7 linked regions of the Homo sapiens genome follow. The protein of the gene in region 6 purifies or fractionates together with the protein of the main gene of each other region. This does not show direct contact. Each region holds a gene or a part of one and is shown on either strand. Other genes may lie near its edges.

Region 1 (4,037 bases), on a different chromosome or scaffold from region 6:
TTCAAATTATCCCTCAAAAAAAATTTTTTAAAAAAGCATTTTGATAGCACCACATTAAAAACTAAACTTCCAGCAAAGATAGTGTGCTCAAAAGTATAATCTGGTAAACTCTGAATGACTAGCAAATCATGCTGTACATATAATCAATTTTTTTTTTTTTTTTTTTTTGAGACGGAATCTTGTTCTGTCACCCAGGCTGGAGTGCAGTGGTGCGATCTCGGCTCACTGCAAGCTCCGCCTCCCGGGTTCACGCCATTCTCCTGCCTCAGCCCCCTGAGTAGCTGGGACTACAGGCGCCCACCACCACACCCAGGTAATTTTTTTTTTTTATTTTGAGTAGAGACGGGGTTTCACCCTGTTAGCCAGGATGGTCTCGATCTCCTGACCTCGTGATCCGCCTGCCTCGGCCTCCCAAAGTGCTGGGATTACAGGCGTGAGCCACCGTGCCCGGCCCTAATCAATGTTTTTTAATTCAACTCACCATCAAGGTTCTGTCAAACCTGTACAAAAATAGTCCACCCAAGACAATAAAAGGTGATGCTTCCTTTGGGTTCATCTGACCAACTCACATTAAAATGACCACCCATCCAAGTCAACTGATGTTCATTCTGTAGCTGAAAAACCTCCCTTTCATTTTAACACTGAAAAATACAAGATGCGTACTATTCTAGAAATATGCCTTTAAAGCTATCCAGATGGAAATATGTCATTTCTTAGATACATATTTTAAAATCTATAAAATGTAAGTAAATCTCACTAGCGAACACTACAAAGACTTAAAATCATAAAATATTTAGGTCAAAGAAATAAGTTAGAATTTTCCCTACTGGTCAGAGTTTACTTTCACACCTCAGTCATTCATTCTTCAGGCTATAAGATCTATGAGAAAACTGAAAACAGATGACAGAAAAGAATCATTATGTTAAGCAAATAATAAATGAACAAGTAGAAATCACTGAGTAATTATTTAATCTTCAAAGATATGCATTTTTTTCTTACTTTATTCCTATGAATAATCCTGCTCAACTCAAACTTCTGACTGTTCTAGGGCCAGCAAGTACATATTTGTTGATCAAGTGACCCAGGCCCTTTAACAACTTGAGCAAAATGTATGCTTTAGCCACGTACACCCTCCGACTCCCTGGTTCTTGCCTTAAAGTCAAAGTCACATCACAATATGTCTCTTACCTGTTTCCCATCCAACGTGTACAGGCGTTTCACCACTCCCGAGTCCAGCTTGATGGCATCGGTGATATCGGTGAGGACCTGCTCAAAGGAATGAGCCGTTTTCTTGTTCAGCAGAATCCTGACAGCTTTCCGTGGCTTCACGCCACTTCTGATGATGGTGACCAGCTTGGGCCGAATGAAATCCTTATTCTCTCGCACCTCTGAAGGGCTTCCTTTGGCAGTGGCCAGTGAAGACACTGCCCGAGAAGCCGAGGTGGTCTTGACGTTCACCGACCAGTTGGGGTTCACATTCTTGGTGTACTCCAGTTTCTTGAAGGGCTCTATGGAGCCACATACATAACTCTCTCCTAAGGAAGAGAGAAATATATTTAAATTTATACTAAAATATGCCCATTTCTTTTTTCCTACTTATCCTCTCTTTTGCCTTTTCTGCTTAGGGGCAAGAGCTAGCCCTGACTTTTCAAACAATGGAAGTGTGATTAATAATTAGGGAAAAAGAAAGATTTCTGATTGCTAATCTGGCACTGTCAGCAACAGATCCACATCCTGGAAAAACAAAACAAAACATTATTCCTCCATTTCCTCATCTTAAGGTCGGTGATAGAAATGCTGATCTACTTGAAAAGACCTTAGAGAAGTGTGAAAGTGAATTTAAAATAGAAAATATTCTTTGGGAATTAGAGATACTTAAATCTGCAGAAAATTTCAAAATTGGAAGTACCTCCATTTGCTACCTGAGATAATTTAAACACTAAGAATGAATCAGAATACAGCATCTTAAAATAGTCATATAATTTACGAATTTGATGAGAGTTGATGCTAAAGATTTTGTAAAGCCCAGTAAAGTTCCAAAAGCAAGCAAATAATCACCCTTCCTTTCTCTCATCTATATAGTGCCAATCACAGTGATCCACACATACTATAAGGTCAATTCATACTTGTTCATAAGTAAGAGGTTTTAGAAGTGTTCAACATACAAACTACAGCTTCAAAAATGGGCTCTAAAATAAATATAAGTAAATGTTTATTAAAAGTGACTCCTTAGCAGGAAATCTTTTAATGAAAATAATCAGACTATTAAGTAGATGTAGATCACACACACAAAAAAGAAAAACATGAACCAAGAGACAACAAATTGTAAAATGACGAATTCTAAATACATATTTCATAAAGTTAGGTCAAAGCCTTTTGAAATTAAAGATTTTGTAATGGCTTTTTTTCTGTGTTAATAAGTTTTTGTAACTAGGAATAGGTAAAAATGCTGAAAGACCTTCATAATTGTAGGTAAAATGACCGAGGCCTAATCTAACACAGCCCATTGACTTTTATCTAAGTCCTTGTATTATTTTTAAATTCACAGTGCAAGCATCCAAGGCCAAAGAATAAGTAGTCACATAAAAATAACTGAAGCAGGCCTTCAAAAGTTAAAAAGAGCAGTTATACATGTTACTGAACACTTGTTTTGCAGATGTTCTTAAAATATTCTCTAATGTGTATACATACACATTATGCCTCACTAGAAGTTGTATGAATAGTGCAAGTTTAACCAACCCCATTTCTATTCACCTGGCAGATCATGACTTGTCTCAGCTATGCCTTCCTCAGGATTTAAGTAAATATCAAAAACTTATATGTATTTTTGATATTTTCTTAAATCCTGAGAAAGGCATATTTGGGTACTATAGAAACAGCAGTGTTTTGGGAGTTTTCATGGAGTGATGACCTGCACATGATAGTGGGAAGAGAGAACTGGAAATTCGGGCTCAAGACCTGGCCTCTCCAAGCATGTGACTTTGGACAAGTCCCTCAGATTTCTGGGTGGTAGTTTATTTATCTATAAAACAAAACCTCATTAGGTTTTTCTGAAGATCAAATTAGAAGATAGAGATCAAAGTGATCTCAAATACAAACCTGCTATGTGAGTGAAAATGACCTGAGGCTACATACCCTAATCGTGCAGTAAGCCTGAAAGAAAAATTCAAAAACAAAATTACTAGAAATCGGTAAGCAGGTCTTATATTGAACAGTTACCAGTGGACACCACGTTGGGTCCATGTCAATGTGAGAATGCCCTAACACTCCCCAGTGAGACACACAGCATGTAACTGAGCTGGCAAAGCTAGCCTCTGTCAGAATTCTGTGCTAACTGAAGATATGCAATTGTCTGATTATTTATAAGTTTCTATACTAAGCTAATAACTAAAAGCAAAACAAAGATACAGAGAGCAGTTTACATTTCAACAAAAACTTTAAAAATATATTAAATTAGAAGAGGGAGCAGTTTTAAAGAACATAGCAACATGGAGTGAGTTTGTTAAAAGAGAAAATAAACACTTTTTAAAAATATCTTCTTAGATAAAGCACCCTGAAAATGTTTAAAAGCATAAGAAAGTTCTCCAGTTACACTGAGAAGGCGTTGCTGGTTTGGTTCAAGCAACAATGATCAGAAGAAATATGTGTTTAATCTGAGCTGTAAATGTGAGGCTCCTCTGCTGGATAATCAGATTTAAAGACTGGAATGAGAATCTTAGAGAAGGATGTGAGACTCCAGTAACAGATGATACTGTGCTAACAGGAAAGCAACAGCTAAAGGAAGGAGAAGGAGCTGCCACCAAATCCAAGATCACACACCACAGTCATTTAGAGTCTGTGACACTATTCAGGAATTCAGGAAAGGCCCAGATGGATTTCCTTATGCTAATAAATTTCCATTGATTTCCTTATGCTAATACATTTCCATTTTATCATGAAAAGAAATTTCCATTAAATCTTTTTAAATCTATGTATTAACTATTTTTACAGTAATCATAACACTGAACTTCTCTCTGCCACAAGAGATGTGGTTCCCG
Region 2 (4,037 bases), on a different chromosome or scaffold from region 6:
CTGCATAGCTTAATTCCCATACCCTGAGCCTATAAGCCTATATCAACAGCCAAATCGAATATAACTTCACTACAATGTCTTTATTACACAAAAGAAAATGATAATTCACCTTCTCTCAATGACTCTCCAGAGCTGGCGCCAAAAGTCCAAATTTCGTTCAAATGGAGTCAATATCAGCTTCTGTTCCTCTTCTAGCCTAGTTTTTGAATGAGAAGTTTATATATTTGCCAGATTATAATAGACAATTTTTAGCAGTGTAAATGCTCAAATTTATTACATTAAAAATAAGTACTGGGCACAAATATCCAGAGTCAAATTATTTTATATATTTCCTGCTGAGACACCATAAAAATACTATTTATTTAGACAATACTCCACCAAATTCAAATTTTATCCTGAAGCTATTTATGCCCTGGAAGTTTACCTATCACACAAAGTCATTTCTTTCCCACACTCTTACTGGAAAAATGTGCAGGAGAGCAGCGATCAACTCCAGGATGCCCAATGGCCAAAGAAGGGAATGAAAGGAAAAGGCCCGGAACTGAGCAGAGTAACCAACTCACGATCTCTGTGCAAGGATGCATTTGCACCTAGCAATCTTGTTTGTGCATACATCTATTTGCACTTGTTAGCAGAATGCTACCATTTCCTTCTTAAAAGAATCAAAACTTCAAAACACAAATGGCTGTGTAAGCATGCCAAATATCTGAACTCAGGATTTCAAAGTAAGTCTTCATAGAGTCTATAATACTCACCGGACAAGCTGACGTCTCCATTCTAGAAAGTTATCTTTCTCTGCTTGTTTGAGTTCTTCTGGGGTAGTATTTTGGTTCCAGTTTGGTCTGAAACAATCATAGAAGGAAAAAAATTCCTCATATAAGTAACCAAAATAAAATAGGTAATTTGGATCTAATAATGGCAGCTGAGAAAAAGAAGCAATTTAAAAAATGAATACTCAGCAGCCTCGGATGTTTTGTGGCATTCTAAATTCTTCTTCAGCTCACCTCCTCGGTATACACAAGAACTGTTTGTTTTCTTCATGGAGCTTCTTAATTCTCTGGCTCTCCTCGAAAGACAGTAGTCCAGTTCTAGCCTCAGCAGGCACAAACTTAATATTAAGTTTCTCTGTTCAAATAAAGAAAAGTACTATTACTTAAGAGGCAGTATAGATACAGAGTGTTTGGTCATACTGATAAACTGAGAAAACTAAAAATGAGAGCCTAAGAGAACTTAAGATTTCTTGATTTAGATTCTTCTAGCCTTGGGTAAATTATTATTCCCAAATGAAGTTTTATACCAAATAACTATCCAGAGTTACTACATTCTTTTTGACTGCCACACAGTATTTCATACTGTGTCTATATCACATTTTCCCTGCTATTGAACATTCAGTTTCCAAGTTTTCATTATTAAAATACAGCATCATCTGGTAGCTTGTTAAAAATGTAAATGCTGCAGCTCTAACCCCCACTCACTGAATAGATGCTCTGGAGTCTAGAGGATAGGGCCAGGAATCTGTATGAAAGAGTTCTCCGGGCAATTCTGCTGCTCTGGGGTAGATGCTGAGAAGTAGAGGTGCTGGCTCATAGGATATGAAACTGTAAACTTGCTTTCTTTGTCTTCTGTTTTTTTTTTGAGACAGAGTCTCACTCTGTCACCCAGGCTGGAGTGAAGTGGCACAGTCTCGGTTCACTGCAACCTCAAACAATTCTCCCAACTCAGCCTCCTGAGTAGCTGGGACTACAGGCCCGCACCACCACGCCCGGCTAATTTTTGTATTTTTAGTAGAGACGGGGTTTTGCCATGTTGGCCAGGCTGGTCTCGAACTACTGACCTCAGGTGATCCGCCCGCCTCGGCCTCCCAAAGTGCTGGGGTTACAGGCATGAGCCACCGCACCCAGCCTGCAACTGTAAACTTCGAACAGATACTGCCAAAACAAATCTTTCCAACTTCCCTCTCTACTGTCTCACCCCATAACCTAAGAACATACTACCATTAACCCTGATCCTTCTCATACACACCCTTACACTTCTCTTTCCCTGCCATAGTCAGCTATCTCAGGAGAATACAACTTGCTCATTCCTTGATTTCCTCACCTCCCACTTCCTGTTTCTCTAGATTCCAGCTGTGGCTCTCTCACTCCACTAAAACTGTTCTGGCAGATATTACTAATGACTTTAAGAAGAAAATAGCAGCCAGGTGCGGTGGCTCACGTCTGTAATCCCAGCACTTTGGGAGGGCAAGGTGGGCGGATCACAAGGTCACGAGTTCGAGACCAGCCTGGCCTACAAGGTGAAACCCCCGTCTCTAGTAAAAATACAAAAATTAGCCAGGGGTGGTGGTGCATGCCTGTAATCCCAGCTACTCAGGAGGCTGAGGCAGGAGAACCGCTTGAACCTGGGAGGCAGAGGTTGCAGTGAGCTGAGATCGCACCACTGCACTCCAGCCTGGGCGACAAGAGAGAGACTCCGTCTCAAAAAAAAAAAAAAAAAAAATATATATATATATATATATATATATAGCTTTACTACAATATGATTCACATACTATACAATCCACCCACTAAAGCATACAATTCAATAATTTTCAGTATATTCACAGAGTTGTGCAGCCATTGCCACAATCCATTTTAGAATATTTTCATCACTCCAAAAAGAAAGCTTTACCCATTAGCAGTCACTGTACACCCCCAGGTACCTGGTGGAAATCATCTACTTTCTGTAGATTTGCCTCTTTAGGACTTTTTGGTGTTTCCACTTTTTGGTGATTACGAATAATGCTGCTATGAATACACATGCACATATTTTTGTGTAGACATGTTTTCATTTCTTTCGGGCATATACCCAGGAGTGGGACTGCTGGATCAGATGGTAATTCCATGTTTTACCTTTTGAGGAACTGCCAAAATTTTTTTATAAAACAGCTACACCATTTTATACTCCCACAGCGATGTATGGTGTTATAATTTCTCTACATCCTCACCAACATTTGTTATAGTCTCTTTTATTTTAGCTATCCTAGTGGGTGAAGTGGTTATTTCACTGTGAAACCCAGGAGTTTATTTTTGTCCCTTCACTCTTTTTCACTTACACTACCCTCTCCATCAAGTCTGGTTTACTCTAGCTCCTTAAGTGTTCTTGTTCCTCTTATTTTCTCCCTTCTTCTACTACCTGTATTTCAGTTCTGGCCTATTTTGCTAGACTAAAGTGATACAGTCTCCTAACTCATCTTGCTTCCTTAAAATTCATCAGTGATCTTTTAAAAAATGAAATCTCATGTACCCATGAGACATACCTGCACTCCCATGTTCCCTGCAGCGCTATTCACAAGAGCCAAGATATGGAACCAACCTCAATGCCCATCAACGTATGAATGGATAAAGAAAACGTGGTATATGTAGTATACAATGGAATACTATTCAGCATTACAAAAGAGGGAAATGTTGACACTTGTGACAATATGAATGAACCACTCTGCTATGAGAAATAACCCAGGCACAGAAAGACAAATACCACATGATCTCACTTATACGTGGAATAAAGCCGAGCTCATAGAAGCAGAGAGAAAATGGTGGTTACCAGAGATTAGGGAGTGGGGCAAATAGGAGGATACTGGTCAAACGGTAAAGTTTTACTGAGGCAGGATGAATAAGTTCTGGAGGTCTAATGTACAGCCTGGTGTCCATAGTTAATAATAACACATTTATTAGTTAATAATATGAAATTTGCTAAGACAGTATATATCTTGTTCTCACCGCACACACAAAAAAACAATGTGAGGTGATGGATACGTTAATTACTTGATTTTAGTAATCATTTCACAATATATACATATAACCAAACGTCACACTATATACTATAACTATATACAATTTTTAGTTGCCAATTGTGTAGCTCATTAAAGCTGGAACCCACACATCCCCCCAAAAAACACTAAACAATGAAATCTGAAATCATGTTGTACACGTGCTTAAAGCCCTGTAAAGCCTTAAACCTTTGTTCTCTCCAGAATCTGGCCCTTGCCCACCTCCTCAGCA
Region 3 (4,037 bases), on a different chromosome or scaffold from region 6:
TTTTAAGATTAGTATATTTCATAGTAGACCAGAATCTTAATTATTCAAATTTTTAAAAATCTTTGCCTTAAAATTTAGGTTTTATCAGCAAGGGAAAATGTAAGATTATATGTATTAAGTGAATAAGAAATTAAGCACATATAAATGTATTTTCATACATTTACTGAATTCAAAACATACCTAATACCAAAAATCACAATGTCTTTATGAGGTAAAGGCACTTAATATTTCTAAGTTATATTTTTGTAAAGCAGGTACAGGGAATCAGGTTGCATAGCCTCCAGTACCTACTGATGTCATGAGTCCAGGAATTTCATTTGTAGTAAGGAGAACATAAAGCAAAACAAGAAGTCGTGTCAGCTGTTATCTGAATAAAGTAGAATATTCTCTGTATTTATAATTAGAGTTTGTGTTAATATCTTCTATATGACTAGAATACCTACTTTATTTAGATAAGGGGAATACAGCCATTATTTTGTCTGCCATTCGATTATGATGGACTGTCATATTTTGATTGAATATCTAGTATTTGAGATGGCACCAGGTTTGGCAAATTCTTACTGAAAAAAATGTTGCACAGAGCCAACTATTTGTATATTTTGTTCTTTGGTTTAATTTTAACTGCCAGTTACAGTTCAATTAGCCGGACGTGGTGGCATGCACCTGTAGTCCCAGCTACTCAGGAGACTAAGGTGGGAGGATTGCTTGAGCCCAGGAGGTCGAGGCTGCAGTGAGCTGTGATTGCACCACTGCAATCCAGCCTGGGCAATGGAGCAAGACTTTGTCTCTAAGTTAAAAATAAAAATTTAAATAAAAAGAAACAGTAAAAATATATAGTTCATATTACAAACTTTGCAAATAAAAACAATGAAGAATTTTTTTTCTCTATTTTCATCTTAATGGTAAAGGCATCTATTTTTTAAATTTAACATCTTCCTCTATATTTATGTTTCTTGACCTCTTCTTTTTTTCTTTTTTTTTTTTTGAGACAGAGTCTTGCTTTATTGCCCAGGCTGGAGTGCAATGGCGCGATCTCGGCTCACTGCAACCTCCGCCTCCTGGGTTCAAGCAATTCTCCTGCCTCAGTCTCCCTTGTAGCTGAGATTACAGGCAGATGCCACAACACCCAGCTAATTTTTGTATTTTTAGTAGAGACAAGGTTTCACCATGTTGGTTAGGCTGGTTTCGAACTCCTGACCTCGGGTGATCCGCCCGCCTCAGCCTCCCAAAGTGCTGGGATTACAGGCGTGAGCCTCTGTGCCCAGCCTCTAGACCTCTTCTTTTATCCCTTTCAATTTTCCCTTCCAAAAGAGAACAAGAATAAAGAAAAATGCTTCATAATTGTCATTTTGGAATGAAACAGTTGAGCTATTTTTATTACAGTGTATTTTGGTTATTGAGTGAATTTATATAAATCAACAAACTAGTTCTTAATTACTCTCATAAAATGGTTGAGTAGGTATCACCATATAAATTAATATAATGTTCCTGTGAATTTTTTCAAATATATTTGGATATAAGGCAAATACCTTCAAATAATGACACTCATTCCGGTTTTGTTGTATTGATTTTGTTATTTTCTAGGTTCCATCTGTCTTGCTTGCTCCAAGTCATCTAATGGCTCTTCTGACGCTTGGAATTAATTCTGCCATGGTCCTAGATTGTGGATATAGGGAAAGCCTGGTGTTACCCATATCTTTTTTGTCAGCCAGCCACCTTTGCAGTTTTTACTCTACTTTAACTAAAATAATTAGGCTAATTATAAATGATTTGTATTGTACTGAACTATTTTGGGTTACTATGTACAAATATGAATTACAATGTGGAAAAAGTTCACAGGATTATAAGACTTAAGTTTACTTTTTGTAGAAGTTATTATTGTTTGGTCCCAGGATATACTCCAGGAGTATACCTCATGAATATTATGTTCAGTTTTTAAAAGAAAAATCAGGATGTGTCAAGTTGACTAGAATAGTCAAGTTTTAAGAAAAAAATCATACAAAGAGTAATTGGAGAAACTGAAATGAGTATGTTCGATCCAGAAAGATTTCAAAACTTAATGGCAACATGAAATCAGCCTTCAAACAGCTGAAGAGCTCACTGGCCTCTGTAGTCGCAGCTACTCAGGAGGCTGAGACAGGAGAGTGGCGTGAACCCGGGAGGCGGAGCTTGCAGTGAGCCGAGATCATGCCACTGCACTCCAGCCTGGGCGACAGAGCGAGACTCTGTCTCAAAAAAAAAAAAAGAATACGTTTTTTCTTTTCTTTTTTTTTATTTTTTAAATCTCCAGAGGCTTTCGTGAAGGCAGTATGCCTTAATGTTTACAAGCTTGGGTTTTAGAATCAAATACACAATAAGTGCAATGCAAATCTCAGCTAAGCTTTTTACTACTTGGTCAGGTAGCTTAATCTCTTCGGGCCTCAGTTTCTTTATCTATAAATTGGGGATTATAATATTTCCATCTCATAGAAGAGTTGTGTTAGTTGAGTGAGGTAATATATATAAAGTGTTCAGCATAGGATTTGGCACATAGTAATTTTCTCAGTACGTGCTGTGGTTTTTATATCATTGACCATAGGCAAGAACTTACTAATAATTCAAGCTGTCCCAAAATTGAATTACTGACCGTATAAACTAGTACATTTCTTTTCATTATAAATATTTAAGCAGAGTATAGATGAGCATCTCTTAGAATTGTCCTAGTGGACATTGCTTTATTGAAAAGGATGTTGACATGCATGAATGTAAGACTTGCAATTTTGAGATCTACATGTATATTTATTAGAAAAAATATTCATGGAAGGAAATTAAGCATCATTAACTCCTAAGGAATTTAATCAAGCAGTAGTGTTTTTTAGTATAAAGTACTTTGTGTTTAATTCTTAAAACAACCATGCAACATGAGTATTATTATTCTCCTTATATAAATGAGAATATTGACAGTTGGGATGGGTAGTTGACTCCTCTTCTTATAAACATGTAGCCAGGATATAAACCCATGTTTGTTTCCAAAGCTGATGCTCTTACCAGTATACTTAGCAAACCCACAGTAAATATTGTTTACTTCCCTCTCAGCTCCGTCCTGTAGAAATATAATGTGGACCATGTATGCAATTTAGAGTGTTCTAGGCTGGGTGCCGTGGCTCACACATGTAATCCTAGCACCTTGGGAGGCTGAGGTGGGCAGATCACCTGAGGCCAAGAGTTCGAGACCAGCCTGCCCAACTTGTCAAAACCCCATCTCTACGAAAAATACAAAAATTAGCCGGGTGTGGTGGCACATGCCTGTAATCCCAGCTGCTTGGGAGGCTGAGGCACAAGAATCACTTGAACCTGGGAGGTGGAGGTTGCACTGAGCCGAGATCGCACCACTGCACTCCAGCCTGGGCTACAGAGCAAGACCCTGTCTCAGAAAAAAGTTAATAGAGTTTTCTAAGAGCCACATTTTAAAAGGCATGAGAAAAGATGAAATTAATAGTATATTTTATTTAACCCAATGTATTCAAAATATTCCAATATTCCATCAATACAAAAATTATAATGAGGTATTTTAGTGAGGTTTTTTGGTATTAAAACCTTCTAAATTTGGTGTGTAGCTTAGTCTTAGAGCACATCTCAATTCAGACTAGCCATATTTCATGTATTAAGTAGCTGCACAGGCCTAGTGGCTACTTTATCAGATGCCCCAGCTGTATCTAATGAATTGTGTGTGGTCATGTGCTTATGTGTATTTTTATTCTGTTTTCTTTGATGAAGAACATGAAAAAAAACTTACTCTTTGATTTTTCTGTAACTATGTTAAAAATAAGAAATAAAAATTTGTCACTAAAGCATATTTAGAACAGTACTGCAGAAGGTGAGGAAAATATCAAGGAAACCACATTTTATCTCCTAAAATAGTAGTATCCTTGACTACTCTATAGATATATGAAGGAATCCCAGTTCTAAATTGTTGGGGAGCACTACCCCTAGGAGGAAAAGCTCTTCACAAGTAAGTTTCTTGGAATTTAACATATTCATTTCACCTGTGCCACAAA
Region 4 (4,037 bases), on a different chromosome or scaffold from region 6:
TGTGGTCCCTTACGTCCAGATTCACCAGCGTCTCCGCCAGCGTCTTCAAGGCTTCACAGTGACCGTTGTAGGCCTGGCAAGGTGCAGGCAACCAGTGCACACAGCTCGGGACCTTCCCTGCTCCTCCCTTCCCCTTCTCTGCTCTTGGGGTCCCTGGGAAGCTCAAGGTCTTAGTCCTTGACAAGCTCCTTGGGCCCCTTAAGGCTTCCTACCCTGCACTGTGCTTATCCCCTCTCCCACAAAAAGGCAGAAGGAAGGATAACTTCACAAGTGCTGGCACCTTTGTTAGGGCCTGGGAACAGGTAGGACAAGGAAGGCAACAGAAAAAAGACGTGGGACTCACAGCTAAGTGCAAAGGGCTGACTGGAATGGTGCTCTCCACATCCTCCAGGCAGTTAAAGGACATTTCTAAGAGCTGCAAAGGACAGGAAAGTAGGTGCTGAGACTCTGGAACTCCCAAGATAGTACCCCAGTCCCCGACTCGCAGTAATCCCCACTAAGCCTCTGGATCCAAAGACCACATTTGATTGAACCCTTAGTTTTGGAATCCACAAACCCTGTGCCCTGCCCCTGCCTCCCCTCCTGCAGGCCGGGCCCCAACACATACCAGTTCGAGGTTCTGTCTGTTGCCATAGGCGGCTGCATAGTGCACAGCTGTGTAGCCCTGCCTGTCCCGCAGGGAGGGGTCTGCACCGTTATCCAGTAAGAACTCCAGACAGCTGGGGAGCCGGGGGTAGACTGTGAGGCAGGGACAGGCCCAGCCCAGGAGGGCACAGTTCTGGGAGGGCCAGAGGAGAGGACCAAGGCCCTCCAGGCCTACCTGGCCGCCACCCGTCCTCAGCTCTAGGTAGGTTCTCTAAATCCTACCCATTCTTCAATGGCAGCTCCAGACCCACTTTACCTTCTCAAGGTCTGCCCTGAACCCCTCTGGCTTCAATGCCCTCCTTTATCCTCTGAATGCTCTCCTAGAGAACCTAGAGCATGATGTTCAGTTATCAGCCTTCTGCTGACCAACATGCTTTCCCCACCTCCAGGCACGCCAACCCCTGCCCTAGGATGCTTTCTCCTCCCAGCCCACCCGAATAAGTCCTGTTCATCTCAAACTCAGTCCCAGCTTCTCTCCTCTGTGAGGCCTTTCCCAGCCTTCCCTGGGGAAGATGCCTCTTCCTCTGTGCTCCCTTGGCAGTCTTCTCATACCTTAGTAGTAGTTGTAGTAGTAGTAATAATAATAAAGTAGCACTTACTGTCAAGCACAGTTCTAAGTACTTCATGTATATTAAATAATTTAATCCTCATAAAGATCCCATGAAGTAGATACTATTTTTATCCTTACTGTGGGTGATGAAATTGAGGCATAGAGAAGTAACTTGCTGAAGGTAATAGCTGAGCCTCTTGGATTTTAGTGTCCTTTTTAAAAAAATAAATCTTAAAAAAAAATTATTTAATTTACTTATTTTAAATGGAGACAGGGGCCTGGCTCGGTTGCTCACATCTTTAATTCCAGCACTTTAGGAGGCTGAGGTGGGCAGATCACCCGCGGTCAGGAGTTCGTGGCCAGCCTCGCCAACATGGCGAAACCCTGTTTCTACTAAAAATACAAAAATTAGGCTGGGCGTGGTGGCTCACGCCTGCAATCCTAGCACTTTGGGAGGCCAAGGCAGGTGGATCGCCTGAGCTCGGGAGTTCAAGACCAGCCTGGGCAACATGGTGAAACCCCGTCTGTACTAAAATACAAAAAATTAGCCAGGCGTGGCAGCGTGCTCCTGTAGTCCCAGCTACTCAGGAGGCTGAGGCAGAATTGCTTGAACCCAGGAGGTGGAGGTTGCAGTGAGCCAAGTTCATGCCACTGCACTCCAGCCTGGGCAACAGAGTGAGACTCGGTCTTCAAAAAAACAATTAGCTGGGCGTGGTGATAGGCACCTGTAATCCCAGCTACTCAGGAGGAAGAGGCAGGAGAATCGCTTGAACCCCGGAGGTAGAGGTTGCAGTGAGCTGAGATCGCGCAACTGCACTAGAGCCTGGGTGACAGAGCAAGACTCCATCTCAAATAAATAAATAAATTAATTAATTTATTTATTTATTTAATTAAATAAAATAGAGATGAGTTCTCATTATGTGTTAGCCAGGCTGGTCTCATACTCCTGGGCTCAAGCAATCCTCCCACCTCAGTGCTGGAATTACAGGCATGAGTCACTGTGCCTACCTGATTTTTGTGGGTTTTTTTTTTTTTTAGAGACGGGGTCTCACTAGGCTGCCCAGGCTGGGGTGCAGTGGCTATTCATAGGCATGATCATAGTGCACTACAGCCTCAAACTCCTGGGTTTGCATGATCCTCTTGCCTTACCTGCACCTGCCTCCTGAATAACTGGGAATATATGCATGTGCCACCGTGCCCAGCAAAAAATAAACTTTTTGTTTTAGAATATTATTAGATTTATAGAAAAATTGTGGGCTAGGTGTGGTGGCTCATATCTGTAATCCCAGCACTTTGGGAGTCTGAGGCAGGAGGATTGCTTGAGCCCAGGAGTTCGAGACCAGTGTGGGCAACACAGAGAGATCCCTGACCTACAAAATAAATTAATTAAAAAAAAAAAAAAAGAAAGAAAAAGAAAAATTGTGAAGATAGTACAGGGAGTTCTCACATAACCTATACCTAGTTTCCCGTCATTAACATCTTACATTAGTATGCATAAGTGTCCTTTTATTTATCTTTCCCAATAGATTATTAGCTTTCGAAAGACAGAAATTTGGGACAATTCATCCTTTTTAAATTTTTATTTAATTTTATTTATTTATTTGTTTTTTTGGAGACAGAGTCTCACTCTGTCGCCCAGGTTGGAGTGGATTAGTGTGATCTTGACTCACTGCAACCTCCACCTCCCTGGTTCAAGTGATTCTCCTGCCTTAGCCACCCGAGTAGCTGGGATTACAGGTGCCTGCCAACATGACCAGCTAATTTTTATATTTTTAGTAGAGACGGGGTTTCACCACGTTGGCCAGGCTGGTCTCGAACTCCTGACCTCAGATGATCTGCCTGCCTCGGCCTCCCAAAGTGCTGGGATTATAGGCGTGAACCACCACACCCGGCCTATTTTTAATTTTAATTTTTTTGAGACAGAGTCTTGTTCGGTTGCCCAGGCTGGAGTGCAGTGGCGTGATCTCGGCTCACTACAACCTCCACCTCCCTGGTTCAAGCAATTCTCCTGCCTCGGCCTCCTGAGTAGCTGGGATTATAGGCGTGTGCCACCACACCTGGTTAATTTTTTGTATTTTTAGTAGAGACGGGGTTTCACCATGTTGGTCAAGCTGGTCTTGAACTCCTAACCTCAGGTGATCTGCCTACCTCAGCCTCCCTAAGTGCTAGGATTACAAGCTTGAGCCACTACGCCCAGCCTCATCTTTTATCCTTAGTATCTAGCACAGTACTTGGAACCTAGTAAGTAAATATTTAATTAATGCTTGTGGAATAAACAAATTATTTTGTACATTTAGCTTTTCTAATCCTCTCAAGAAGACCAGCCGGGCGCGGTGAGCTGAGATCACACCACTGCATTCCAGCCTGGGCAACAGAGTGAGACTCTGTCTCCAAAAAAAAAAAAAAAAAAAAAATCCATTCCTTTAGGGAAGGAACTATGTCTCATACTTTTGGGTTTTTTTTTCCCCCTGAAGCTCCTGAGCTTCAATCTCATACTTTTGTCTTTGCCCACTATGGACTACACCCAGAGGGCTCAAGACACACTGCTGGCTGACCGGCAGGACAGCAGCAGTATAGGGTAGAGGTTCAGATTAGGTAGGAGGACAGTAGGGCCAGAGCTTGCATGGGTTGGGGAAAGCACATCCCAGGGGCCCTCTCTGCTACTCACAAGAAGGCCTCCTTCCTGCGGGACTCCTTCAGTGGCTCGTCCTCTTCGGCATCATGGCTGGAAGGTGTATGGGGTTCCGCTCTGGGGAAGAGAGAGAGAAAGTTAGGGCCAGGCTCAGGGAGGTGAATGGGGCTGAGAAGGACCAGACTGGTAGCCTCACCTCCTGTAAGTGTC
Region 5 (4,037 bases), on a different chromosome or scaffold from region 6:
TCATATCAAAAATACCAGGGGACTCATATCAAAGATGCCAGGGCAGGAGGATATCTTGAGCCCAGGAGTTCAAGGGGATTGTTGAGTTCTTCTTTAGCATTCCTGACCCCCGGGCAAATGCCTTTAGTTCAGAATAGTCACTGTGGAAACCAGACTATTCCTTTTTATTTCTTTTTTTTTTTTTGAAACGAAGTCTCGCTCTGTTGCCCAGGCTGGAGTGCAGTGGCGCGATCTCTGCTCACTGCAAGCTCCGCCTCCCAGGTTCACGCCATTCTCCTGCCTCAGCCTCCCGAGTAGCTGGGACTACAGTTGTCTGCCACCACACCAGCTAATTTTTTGTATTTTTAATAGAGACTGTGTTTCACCGTGTTAGCCAGTATGGTCTCGATCTCCTGACCTTGTGATCCACCTGTCTCAGTCTCCCAAAGTGCTAGGATTACAGGTGTGAGCCACTGCGCCCGGCTTCCTTTTTATTTCTAAATGCCCCCTGAGGCAGTGTACCATCCCGATTAAGAAGTACTGATTATAGATAAATGATACTAAAAATCTTGAAAAGGGCATCCAGGTGAATATCTAAAGCTTTTGTGCTGATGGATCAGACATGGAATATCTAAGTAAGAAAATAGTTCTAATACACTATGAATTAGGAGACCCTTAGTAATCTTCAAAATACCAACTTTTCTCAGTTTGTTGTTTTTCTTTTTTGTATTTTTTAGAGAAAGGGTCTCACTCTGTTACCCAGGCTAGAGTACAGTGGCAAGATTGTAACTCACTGCAGCCTCAACCTCCTGGGCTCTAGTGAACCTCCTGTCTCAGGCTCCTGAGTAGATAAGACTGCAGGTGCATGCCACCACGCCCAGCTAATTTATTTTTTGTAGTTATAGGGTCTCACTGTGTTGCCCAGGTTAGTCTCAAACTCCTGGCCTCTAGCAGTCCCTCTGCCTTGGCCTTCCAAAGTGCTAGGATTACAGGTGTGAGCCAGCACACCTGGCCCCCTTGATTTTTTTTTTTTTTTTTTTTTTTGAGACAGAGTCTCGCTTTCTCGCCCAGGCTGGAGTGCAGTGGTGCAATCTTGGCTCACTGCAACCTCCACCTCCCGGGTTCAAGCGATTCTCCTGCCTCAGCTTCCCGAGTAGCTGGGATTACAGGCGCACGCCACCACGCCTGGCTAATTGTGTTTTTAGTAGAGACGGGGTTTTGCCATATTGGCCAGGCTGATCTCGAACTCCTCACCTCATGATCCACCCATCTGGGCCTCCCAAAGCACTGGTATTACAGGCGTGAGCCACCGTGCCCAGCCTCCCCCTTGAATTTTTTAAACAAATTTCTTAATTTTCTTGCAATTAGTAGATTAAAGTGGTATGTAATATTTCATCAAATCTAAGCCACTGTTTATTGCATAGTGCACCATTACTTTATTCATTTAAGCCATGGAGACATAAAAATGCTGCCAAACTGACCCACCATTAATTGTAATTAATTGTAATTCCAATTTCAGAGATGTTAAAACTTGTAAAAATGTGCATCTTAGAATTAGGGAGATAGAGTAGCTAGAAAACTATTGTCTCAGTTTTACTAGTAGTGTCAGTATCTTTAAAAAGTTTTACTTGATGTTATTTGATCTCCCCCCCCCCCCCCTTTTTGGATTAGCTTTCTTGTAAACTGGAGCGAGAATTCCGTTGTGTGGAACTTGCTGATCTAATGACTCAAAATGCTGTGAATTTAGCCATTAAATATGCTTCTCGCTCTCGGAAATTAATACTGGCTCAAAAACTAAGTGAACTGGCTGTAGAGAAGGCAGCCGAATTGACAGCAACCCAGGTGGAAGAGGAAGAAGAAGAAGAAGATTTCAGAAAAAAGCTGAATGCTGGGTAAGAAATAATTTAGTTGTTTGAATTTTCCTTTACTGTCTTGAATGTTAAGTTGGTCTTTGCATAGCTCTTTATTGAATAATATTATTTTCTCTTAGTTACAGCAATACTGCTACAGAGTGGAGCCAACCAAGGTTCAGAAATCAAGTTGAAGAAGATGCTGAGGACAGTGGAGAAGCTGATGATGAAGAAAAACCAGAAATACATAAGCCTGGTGAGATACATTTTCAAGCCCATAAATCATGAGAACTATCATGGATGTGGCTTTTCCCATTTTGCTTAACTGAGGGAAATTGAATACTCATACTTTTTTTCAGACCTCTTTGCTATCTGGTTGTTGTATATTGAGGATGACTATATTTTCCCCATTTACATTATATTGCTTTATTTTAATCTGTAGGACAGAACTCGTTTTCCAAAAGTACAAATTCCTCTGATGTTTCAGCTAAGTCAGGTGAGAAATATTTATAAATTTGTAATATCAAGGAAATTTTGCAAGTCATCTGCAAAGTGACACATCTACGCAAATACACCTTAACTCTTAAGGCCACTTTTGGTGTGTGTGTGTTTATGTTTTTGTTTTTTTAATCTCAGATGTTGTTTGTGAAGCTATGGTCATTTAACAGATGTTTATAAAATGCCTATTGAGTGTCAGGCATTTTACTTAATGGTGGATACAGAAGTCAAACAGACATGTGTGGTTGATCTCTGTTTTAATGCTATTTTAGCCCAGCTGAGAAGACAGATGTTGAAGACAGATCTGGGTATCACTGAGGAAGCATGCAGGATACTGGAGAAACAGTTAAAAGGAATTGAAGGCTGGGCGCAGTGGCTCACGCCTGTAATCCCAGCACTTTGGGAGGCCGGAGTGGGCGGATAACGAGGTCAGGAGTTCTAGACTAGCCTGGCCAACACGGTGAAACCCCATCTCTACTAAAAATACAAAAATTAGCTGAGGGTGGTGGTATGTGCCTGTAATCCCAGCTACTCGGGAGGCTGAAGCAGGAGAATCACTTGAACTCAGGAGGTGGAGGTAGCAGTGAGCCGAGATCGTGCCATTGCACTCCAGCCTGGGCAATGGAGTGAGACTCCATCTCAAAAAAAAAAAAAAGGAGTTGAAAATGGTTGCGTACAGGGAGTGGGCCTGGGGGATAAGAGAAGGTTGAAGTAAGGCACTGCTGGCCCTTTTTTGGTGGGGAGCATAAACCTTATAGTACCATTTGACTTTTTAAACTGTGGACATATGTTACTTTGATTTAAAAAAATTAACTTAAAAAACATGTAGAATATGAAAAGAGCGTATGACACATAGCTGTCATCTAGCCAGTGGTGGAGGATGGGTAGGGACTTCAAGGCAGGCCTCATGGAGTGTTTACAGCAGAGACCTGAAGGATGAATAACAGTCAGCAAGGCAAAGGTGCATGGGAACAGGAGCAGAAGAGAAGCATTTGGGCTTAAGGAACAGTATGTGTGAACTGAAGGCTGCAAAAGGGTGGTGTGAAAAGCTCAGAGAGCAAAGAGAAAGTGGTGCTGAAGGGTTTCGGAGTGATGGGCAGGAGCCAAGTCATGCAGATCTGTGTAGGCCATATTAAGGATTTTGGTCTTTTTTTTATTTTATTTTATTTTTTTTAATAGAGATGGGGTGTCACTCTGTTGTCCAGGCTGGTCTCAAACTCAAGCAATTTCCTCACCTCCACATCCCAAAGTTGTTGGACCTGCAGGTGTGAGCCACCACACCCGGTCAGGATTTTGCTCTTTATTCTAAGGTCACTGAGAGACTGTTGTAGGTTTTAAGCAGAGGTATAGCATGGCACACTGTGCTGAAGAAGAACAGATAATAGACTACTGGCCAGGTGTGATGGCTCATGTCTGTAACCTCAGCATTTTGAGAGGCCAAGGTGGAAGGATCACTTGAGACCAGACGTTTGAGACCAGCCTTGGAAACAATGAAACCCTATCTCTACAAAAAGTAAATAATAAAAATATTAGCCAGGCATGGTAGTACACACCGGTAGTCCCAGGTATTTGGGAGGCTGGGACAGGAGGATATCTTGAGCCCAGGAGTTCGAGGGTGCAGTAGGCTATGGTTGCACCACTGCACTCCAGCCTGGGTGACAGAGCAAGACCCTGTATCAAAAAATAAATAGGCCAGGCGTGGTGGCTCAC
Region 6 (4,037 bases):
GGTGTACTTGTAGGCCGGAGTGCAGTGGCATGATCTTGGCTCACTGCAAGGTCCGCCTCCCAGGTTCATGCCATTCTCCTGCCTCAGCCTCCTGAGTAGCTGGGACTACGGGCACCAGCCACCACGCCCAGCTAATTTTTTGTATTTTTAGTAGAGAGGGGTTTCACCGTGTTAGCCAAGATGGTCTCGATCTTCTGACCTAGTGATCCATCTGCCTTGGCCTCCCAAAGTGCTGGGATTACAGGCGTGAGCCACTGCGCCCGGCCTGGAATAAATTCTTTTTTTTCTCCCCAGTATAGTTATGTTACCATTTGATATAGAGGTAGGCTTATTTGTTTCTATTTATACTCAATTTTAGAGTTTGCTTTGATTACCCATTTTTGATTCCATTTTATTTTTGAATATATATAAATTTACATCATTCAAAAGTTAAGATTATTTTTTAAAGATGTGGTAGGCAGAATGATGCCGCCCCACCACCGTCCTGGCAAAAGATGTCCACATCTTAATTGCCAGAAGCTGTGAATATGTTAGAGAATAAAGAAGAATTAAGATGCTAACCAGTTGACCTTAAGATAACAAGAATATTCTCTATTATTTTATGGGCCTGAATGTAATCACAAGGGTCCTAAACAGTGAAAGCAGGAGGCAGAAGGGTCAGATTCAAAGAGATTTGAAAATGCAGTGCTGCTGGCTTTGAAGGTGCAGAAAAGGACCATGAGCCAAGGAATGCAGGCAGCCTCTCGAAGCCAGAGAAAGGAAGGAGATGAATTATCCTCTAGAACTTTCAGAAGGAATGCAGCCCTGCTGACATCTTAACTTTAGCCCAGTGAGACCCATATTGGACTTTTGACATCCAGAACTGTAAAATAGTATATTTGTGCTGTTGTAAGGAGATACATTTATGGGAATTTATTAGATCAGCAATAGGAAACTGAAACAAAAAGTATACAAAGAGAAATCCCATTCCCATCTTCCACCCCATCCGCAATAGGTAACTAATTTTATTAGTTTCTGGTTTGTTGTTTCTGTGTTTCCTTTTTGAAGCAGGAAAAAAGCAAATAAGGATACATACATATTCCTTTTTCCCTTTTAGACTTATACCAAAGGTAACATGCTATATTCTCTTGTGCACCTTGCTTTTACTCTCAACAATATATCCTGTAAGCTACCTCTATTACTTCATAGAAATGAAGTCTGTGTTTTTTTTTTAAAGTCTCCTCACCCCACCTAACCCTAGTGATTCTGCTGATTACTCAGTTGGGGAATCTAAATCTGTAGTTTCCACTTTGTTTCACGTCTGGAAAAGGTAAACCTAATCAACCTTAAAGAATCCCTTGAATGTATTCCAGAACATCCTAAAAAACCATTCCATCTATGTTAACTTCCAGGAAATACTTCCCTAGACCTAAGTGATCTGTCATATTGCAGTTTTTATCCAGTTTTGTTCTTATCTGAGCTCAGCAGAGTTGGAAAACAGCTGGTCTCCATCTCTTCTACAATAACCCTTTTTAAAATTTGATAGCTGCTACTCAGATGTACCTCAAGCCTTTATTTGCTCTTCAAGATGTTTAACTTTGTTTCATAAGGGTGATTTGCCAGTCTTCTAACTTGGCTGAACTCTTGCCAATATATCTGCTCGCTTGCTTAGCTTTGGACTCAGTTTTGGGCATAGTGATTCAATTTTTTTTAAATCAACACTCATTTTACCAAAACCAATCTTAGAATTCTTTTATTTTAAACATTTATTAAGGCTACTACTCTTGCTTCCTGAAAAAAATAATTCATCTTCACAATGATGAATGATGAGAATTCTATCAGATAACATCAATATTGCTTCAAAACATGGTATGGGAATGCAAAATTCAGGGTTTCTTTTTTTTAATATTGAGAATAATAGAGAGAGAGAGAGTGTCTGTTCATCCTCCATAGTGTCTTGTCATGGATCTTCATTTTTTAAAATTGATATGTCTATAGGCAGGCAAAGAGTATAGTGAATATAGAAAGATAAAAATCCAGAAATATATGAACTTTGTAAAAATTAAAAATTATCCTTCAGGTACAGTTTTGACTTGCATACTGGCTGTATTAGTTAGGTTCTCCAGAGAAACTGAACCAACAGTATGTGTGTGTGTGTGTGTGTGTGTGCGTGTGTGTGTGTGTGTGTGTGTGTGTGTGTGTGTGTGTATATGTATATATATATATAGAGAGAGAGAGAGAGAAAGAGAGATTTATCTTTAAGGAATTAGCACATGTGATTATGGAGGCTTGGCAAGTCCAAAATCTGACAAGGGAGGTCAGCCGACTGGAGACCCAGGAAAAAGTTGCAGTTCGTTGCAGTTCGAGTCCAAAGGCAGACTGCTGGTGAACCAGGAAGAGTCAATGTTGCAGGTGAGGTCTGAAGACGATCTGCTGGTGTGTTCCTTCTTACTCAGGGGAAGTCATCCTGTTGTTCTATTCAGGCCTTCAACTGATTGAAGAGGCTTACCCACATTACAGACAGTAATCTGCTTTACTGAAAGTCGATCAATTTAAATGTAAATCTCATTCAAAAGCACACTCAAAGAAACATCCGGAATAATGCTCGACCAAAGATCTGAGCACACTGGCACAGCCAAGCTGACACATAAAATTCACCATCACACTTGACATATACAATCCTCCTGCTCTTTGCTTACTCAGTGTTACACTCAGTGCTTACTCTATGGAGGGCAGTGTTCTGAATGACTTACACATACTGACTCATTTAATTCTTAAAATAAGCCATGGGGTAAGTACTGTTACTGCCTCTATTTCGTAGCCGAGGTAGTGTAGGTGCAGCAATGTATTTTTTGAGCTGAGACTCAAATGCATGAACTCTGGTTCTAGAAGCTTTCTATCAGGATCACCATATCATTCATCATCCAAATGAAACACTTCTGGCAGTCCAAGGGGGTGCTATTTTTATTAAGTCAGGATAATAAAAATAAATCAGGACTGTCCTTGACAAATAAGAATATAGTTGCCCTAATATAATTGCTTCTCAATACTGCTAGGTCCCACGTTCTTTCCTGAAAAAATAGACTCATCAATAAGTAAGTACACATTGTTATGTGCTAAATTGTGTTCCCTCAACTTTATATGTTGAAGTCTTAACTCCTAATACCTCAGAATGTGACTGTATTTGGATATGGAAACTTTAAAGGGATGATTAAGTTAAAATGAGGCCTGAAGGCAACCGGATTAGTGACCTTACGAGAAGAGGAGATTATGACACACAGAGAAACACCAGAAGCACATGTGCACACAGAGAAGTTCATGTGAGAACATAGCAAGAAGGTGGCATCAACAGCCAAGGAGGGGGACTATAGAAAAAAACCAAACATATACTGAACCCTTGATCTTGGACTTCTAGTTCCAGAATTGTCAGAAAATAAATTTCTGTTGTTTAAGCCACAATCTGCGGTATTTTGTTATGAGAGTCCTAGCAAGCTAATACACACATGAATTTAAAAAACGCTACGCAGCCGGGTGTGGTGGCTCAAGCCTGTAATCCCAGCACTTTGGGAGGCCGAGGTGGACAGATCACTTGAGGTCAGGAGTTCGAGACCAGCCTGGCCAACATGGCAAAACCCTGTCTCTACTAAAAATACAAAAATTAGCCAGATGCAGTGGCGCCTGCCTGTAATCCCAGCTACTCGCCAGGCTGAGGCAGAAGAATTGCTTGAACCCAGGAGTCAGAGGTTGCAGTGAGCTGAGATCATGCCACTGCACTCCAGCCTTGGTGACAGAGCAAGACTCCGTCTCAAAAAAAAAAAAAAACAAAAAAAACAAAAAAAACCCCTAAACAACACAGTGCTAGAAGTCAGGTCCATGAAATGTCCTAATACTGACTCCTCAAAATAGGGGAACAAAGAAATATGTTGAGAGAAAAACAAAACAATTTTTGCTTTGAAGAAAAAGAGAGAGATGCTAAAGTATAAATAACTCTTCCAATAGGTTAAATACTTTGAACAACCAACCTAACATCTTATTGGAACTTGATTCTCCCCTTTCCT
Region 7 (4,480 bases), on a different chromosome or scaffold from region 6:
TCACTTATGTAATTCATCTCAATAATGTTTTATCAGCTTTTGAAACAAATCCTAAAAGTCCATATGTATAAACAGGAATGTAAAATTTATTTGCACTAGGAGAATCCTTATTAATCCAAGGAGAAGATATCAAAGAACTAAATATGTATTGGTTTTGAAAATTTTTAGTAGTTTTATATCTAACTAGTAATCAGTTTATAGGCAAGATGTTAACTTCCATTCTTAAAGGAGGAACTCAAATCTGATACACTTTTTATATTATGTGCTTTTCTTCCACAGTAGGTAATCATTTAATTAATTAATTAATTAATTTTTGAGGCAGAGTCTTGCTGTTGCCCAGGCTGGAGGGTAGTAGCACAATCTTTTCTCACTGCAACCTCTTCTCACTGCAACCTCCGCCTCCCAGGTTCAAGCAATTCTCCTGCCTCAGCCTCCCAAGTAGCTGTGACTACAGGTGCCTGCCACCACGCCTGGCTAATTTTTTGTATTTTTAGGAGAGATGGGGTTTCATCACGTTGGCCAGACTGGTCTCAAACTCCTGACCTCAAGTGATCCGCCCACCTCAGCCTCCCAAAGTGCTGGCATTACAGGTGTGAGCCACCACGCCTGGCTCACTTATACTCATTCAGCAAATAATTATTGAACTCCATTTACGTACCAGACACTGTTAATTGATGTTACTCACTTTTCCTTTCAGAACTAAAGCCTTATCAGTTGTGTGTTGAGATAGGAAGAGGAGACTTTTTCCACTTCTTGTGTTTCCTACAGTTACTCCCTTCCCAAACTGATAAAGTATACAGTTTATAAAAATCTTAAAAACTCATTCTTACTGGTAAATTCATTTTAATAATGAGGGGAAAAAACTTTAGTTATTAAAAACAAAAGAATGAATACACATACACACACTAAATGTGGCAGATGTTTCCAGGAGAGATTAGCAACAGAGAGGCCACATGATCAAATAAAATTTACACTTTTGATGGGATTGTCCCCTCGTGGCCACCCAAGTGTTTGTGGAAGAAAGTCTGGAGTTGTTTCCAAGCATCCACCTGAGCCATGGCATGAGCCCTGGGCTCCCCTCCCCAGATAATAGGACTGCCCACCAAGGCATGCAGGGAAGCCCGACACAGGGGGAAGTAAGGAGGCTCAATATAGTGCCCTGTCTCTGGGTAACAGATGATCTGGGGCTTTCTCCTCCCATGGGCCTGCAAGCGTTTACAGGCCTCATTAGCATAGAACTCACTCTTCCAGTTGTGGTCATCCTGACCTACCAGGAACAGGAAGGTGCTCTCTGCCCTTTCCACAGGAATGAAGCTCTTCTGGTCAGGTCCTTCCAAAGGGCTGTTCAGGACATCCACAATGTCTGCATAGCCATCTTTGGTCACCTTGATGCGATTTCTGTTGACGCCCACAGGGGGCAGGGTCTCGCCCTTGTAGTGTAAGGTTCCCCCAACATTGGCCACAGAGCCGTTGATGACGACAGCAGCCGTGATGCCCTTCAGGAAAGAGGCCATGGAAAGGCAGAGCTCACCCCCTTTGGAAATTCCAAGCAGCCCAACTCCTGGACCTTTTACCTGAGAAAGGGACAAAGGAAAAAGAAGAAGAATGATTCCACAAACAGTGGAATATGGTGAGTTGTGTCCACCCTGGAAGTTAGTTGAACCTGAGTCTGAATCTAGGTTCTACCATTTACCCAGATTTGCAACTTTGAGAATTTACCTCCCCTCTATCTCTTCCTTTCCACAATTTGTCCATCACCACTCTTGGTGATAACCATGTGGAAGATCTATCAATTATTCTCTGGTTTCTCAGTTCCTTAATCTCGTATCTCCCATGATCTTTTTCTGTCTCCCACCTGAGCCACCCATTCCCACTGTCATAACTAAACTGAGTCATCATCAACAAGTACATCATCTCATGGCCGGGAGTGGTGGCTGACGCCTGTAATCCCAACAGTTTGGGAGGCTGAGGCGGGTGGATCATTTGAGGTCAGGAGTTTGAGATCAGTCTGGCCAACATGGTGAAACATCTCTACTAAAAATACAAGAATTAGCCGGGCAGTAGTGGCACGTGCCTGTAGTCACAGCTACGTGGGAGGCTGAGGCAGAAGAATCAATTGAACCTGGGAGGTGGAGTTTGCAGTGAGCCGAGATCATGCCATTGCACTCCAGCCTGGGTGACACAGCAAGACTCCATCTCAAAAAAAAAAAAAAAAAAATACTGGAATTTAAAATTGCATAATAACAACTACGAATCTCTTTACTAGCAGGAAATATAGTAATATAGAATTGAATAGAAACTGTCTATAAGAGGCCAGGTGTGGTGGCTCATGCCTGTAATTCCAGCACTCTGGGAGGCCAAGGTGGGCAGATCACTTGAGGTCAGGAGTTTGAGACCAGCCTGGCCAACATGGCGAAACCCCATCTCTACTTAAAAAAAAAAAAATACAAATATTAGGCTGGGCATAGTGGCTCATGCCTGTAATCCAGCACTTGGGTAGGTCAAAGCAGGTGGATCATTTGAGGTCAGGAGTTCAAGACCAGCCTGACCAATATTGTGAAACCCCGCCTCCACTAAAAATACAAAAATTAGCCAAGCATGGTGGCAGGTGCCTGTAATCCCAACTACTCGGGAGGGTGGGGCACAAGAATCACTTGAACTTGGGAGGTGGAGGTTGCAGTGAGCCAAGATCGCACCACTGGACTCCAGCCTGGCAACAGAGTGAGACTCCATCTCAAAAAAAGAAACTGTCTATAAGAAGTGACTAAAAAAGGTAGTGTGTGTTGGGGTAGGGAATGGCTGTCATGAATGAGCTAACTTCTGTGAAAACCCAGACCATTTAAGAAGAGACCTGATACATCATAGCCCATAAATCTGAAAGAAGAACTAACCTCGGGATGACTGAGCAAGTAGTTCATGGCTTCTTCAAAGTACTCCAGATGGAGCGTCTCCATGGTCTTGGGGAGGTCTTCATAGTTATAATAAGCCAGAGCCATCACAGCAAAACCCTTCCCAGCCAGCAGACTAGCCCGATACTCCAGCAGGCCACCTCCAGTTCCGAACATGTCCACAATCCCAGGAAAGGGCCCAGGTTCTTGGGAAGAAACAAAACAAAATGCAAAACTAAGCTATTCCTGAAACAGTTGGATGGTTTAAGTTAAACATATACTTACCACACATGTGACCCAGCAATCCCACTCCTAGGTATCTACCCACGAGAAATGAAAACCTGTTCGTCCAGAAACCTCTGGCAAGTGTTTATAGTGACTTTACTCGTTGTAGCCAAAGACTGGAAACAACCCAAATGTCCTTTAACTGGTGAATGAATCCATTTAATGGTGCACCACCAAGAAACAAAAAGAAAGACTGCTACATAGAAGAGCACAAATTCCTCTCCAGTGCACTCAACAGAATGCACTTACTCAACGGAGACAGACTCAAAAGGCTACTCATTCTGAATGACTCCACTTACTGATATTTTTATCATTTACATTAAAGGTTTTGTGTTTCACACAAAATTAAATAGTAATAATGCAGGCTGGGTCCGGTGGCTCACGCCTGTAACCCCAGCACTTTGGGAGGCTGAGACGGGTGGATCACCTGAGGTCAGGAGTTCGAGACCAGCCTGGCCAACATGGTGAAACCCCATCTGTACTAAAAATACAAAAATTAGCTGGGTGTGGTGGCGGCCACCTGTAATCCCAGCTACTCGGGAGGCTGAGGGAGGAGAATCGCTTGAACCCGGGAGGTGGAGGTTGCAGTGAGCCAAGATTGTGCCACTACTCCAGCCTGGGCGAAAGAGCGAGACACTGTCTCAAAAAAAAAAAAAAAAAAAAAAAAAATGCAAACACCTTACAGGCAACACTTTTAAGACATAGTTCAGTGCTGATACCCGCAAACCATCAACGTCCCACAGACCCCTGTGCCCTTTCCTCTCTTTCCAGTATCCTGGACTTTCTGTGTATCACTCTTGGTTTTCTTCATAGTATTACCACTTAGATTATGTACCTTAATATTTTATTTTGCCTAGTTTTTGAATTGTATCTAAATGGAATGATACTGAATGTGTTCTCCTAGGGTTTGACTGTTTCACTCAACAGTGGTTTGGAGATTCATCCATGTTGATTCTTTTTTTTTCTTTTCTTTTGTATATCTTGATAGATGTTGATTCTTGTAGCTGTAGTTCAATCACTTTGACTGCTGGAAATATACCTCAATTTATTAATCTGTTCTATTGTTGATGGACATTTGGACTGTTTCCAGTTGACTTTGCTCTTTTTTTAAATTAATCCAGACTGCTCATCTGGCCTCTTATAAGGAATATGCCTCCTGGTGCACATGTACAAGTAGAATAACATATTTAACTTTGTAAGTTAAGACAAATTGTTGCCCAGAGCAGATGAATATGTTGCTCCTTCTAGCAGTGAGTTTCATTTCCTCCACATACTGGTCAGCAATTGATAATGCTAGCTTCTAAAAG

The links.
Region 1: the proteins of IMMP2L (region 6) and DCLK1 purify together in Homo sapiens (affinity purification with mass spectrometry; one large-scale study listed by BioGRID and IntAct). This does not show direct contact.
Region 2: the proteins of IMMP2L (region 6) and LSG1 purify together in Homo sapiens (affinity purification with mass spectrometry; one large-scale study listed by BioGRID and IntAct). This does not show direct contact.
Region 3: the proteins of IMMP2L (region 6) and ACTR10 purify together in Homo sapiens (affinity purification with mass spectrometry; one large-scale study listed by BioGRID and IntAct). This does not show direct contact.
Region 4: the proteins of IMMP2L (region 6) and ANKRD52 purify together in Homo sapiens (affinity purification with mass spectrometry; one large-scale study listed by BioGRID and IntAct). This does not show direct contact.
Region 5: the proteins of IMMP2L (region 6) and WDHD1 purify together in Homo sapiens (affinity purification with mass spectrometry; one large-scale study listed by BioGRID and IntAct). This does not show direct contact.
Region 7: the proteins of IMMP2L (region 6) and ACOT2 purify together in Homo sapiens (affinity purification with mass spectrometry; one large-scale study listed by BioGRID and IntAct). This does not show direct contact.

Annotation. Positions count from the first base shown.
Region 1 is NC_000013.11:36,110,681-36,114,717, forward strand, and holds part of DCLK1 (serine/threonine-protein kinase DCLK1), read right to left. Parts: intron 1,536-4,037; coding exon 1,189-1,535; intron 1-1,188.
Region 2 is NC_000003.12:194,665,448-194,669,484, forward strand, and holds part of LSG1 (large subunit GTPase 1 homolog), read right to left. Parts: intron 1,126-4,037; coding exon 1,005-1,125; intron 843-1,004; coding exon 756-842; intron 197-755; coding exon 110-196; intron 1-109. UniProt on the Homo sapiens protein: Functions as a GTPase. May act by mediating the release of NMD3 from the 60S ribosomal subunit after export into the cytoplasm during the 60S ribosomal subunit maturation.
Region 3 is NC_000014.9:58,209,708-58,213,744, forward strand, and holds part of ACTR10 (actin-related protein 10), read left to right. Parts: intron 1-1,584; coding exon 1,585-1,692; intron 1,693-3,923; coding exon 3,924-3,991; intron 3,992-4,037. UniProt on the Homo sapiens protein: Part of the dynactin complex that activates the molecular motor dynein for ultra-processive transport along microtubules.
Region 4 is NC_000012.12:56,248,152-56,252,188, forward strand, and holds part of ANKRD52 (serine/threonine-protein phosphatase 6 regulatory ankyrin repeat subunit C), read right to left. Parts: coding exon 4,024-4,037; intron 3,945-4,023; coding exon 3,864-3,944; intron 720-3,863; coding exon 608-719; intron 416-607; coding exon 344-415; intron 74-343; coding exon 1-73. UniProt on the Homo sapiens protein: Putative regulatory subunit of protein phosphatase 6 (PP6) that may be involved in the recognition of phosphoprotein substrates.
Region 5 is NC_000014.9:54,960,786-54,964,822, reverse strand, and holds part of WDHD1 (WD repeat and HMG-box DNA-binding protein 1), read left to right. Parts: intron 1-1,650; coding exon 1,651-1,871; intron 1,872-1,969; coding exon 1,970-2,085; intron 2,086-2,271; coding exon 2,272-2,325; intron 2,326-4,037. UniProt on the Homo sapiens protein: Core replisome component that acts as a replication initiation factor. Binds directly to the CMG complex and functions as a hub to recruit additional proteins to the replication fork.
Region 6 is NC_000007.14:110,666,904-110,670,940, forward strand, and holds part of IMMP2L (mitochondrial inner membrane protease subunit 2), read right to left. Parts: intron 1-4,037. UniProt on the Homo sapiens protein: Catalyzes the removal of transit peptides required for the targeting of proteins from the mitochondrial matrix, across the inner membrane, into the inter-membrane space. Known to process the nuclear encoded protein DIABLO.
Region 7 is NC_000014.9:73,572,002-73,576,481, reverse strand, and holds the end of ACOT2 (acyl-coenzyme A thioesterase 2, mitochondrial), read right to left. Parts: intron 3,095-4,480; coding exon 2,892-3,094; intron 2,197-2,891; coding exon of another isoform or gene 2,113-2,196; exon of another isoform or gene 2,075-2,112; intron 1,575-2,074; coding exon 969-1,574; 3' UTR 827-968; downstream 1-826. UniProt on the Homo sapiens protein: Catalyzes the hydrolysis of acyl-CoAs into free fatty acids and coenzyme A (CoASH), regulating their respective intracellular levels. Displays higher activity toward long chain acyl CoAs (C14-C20).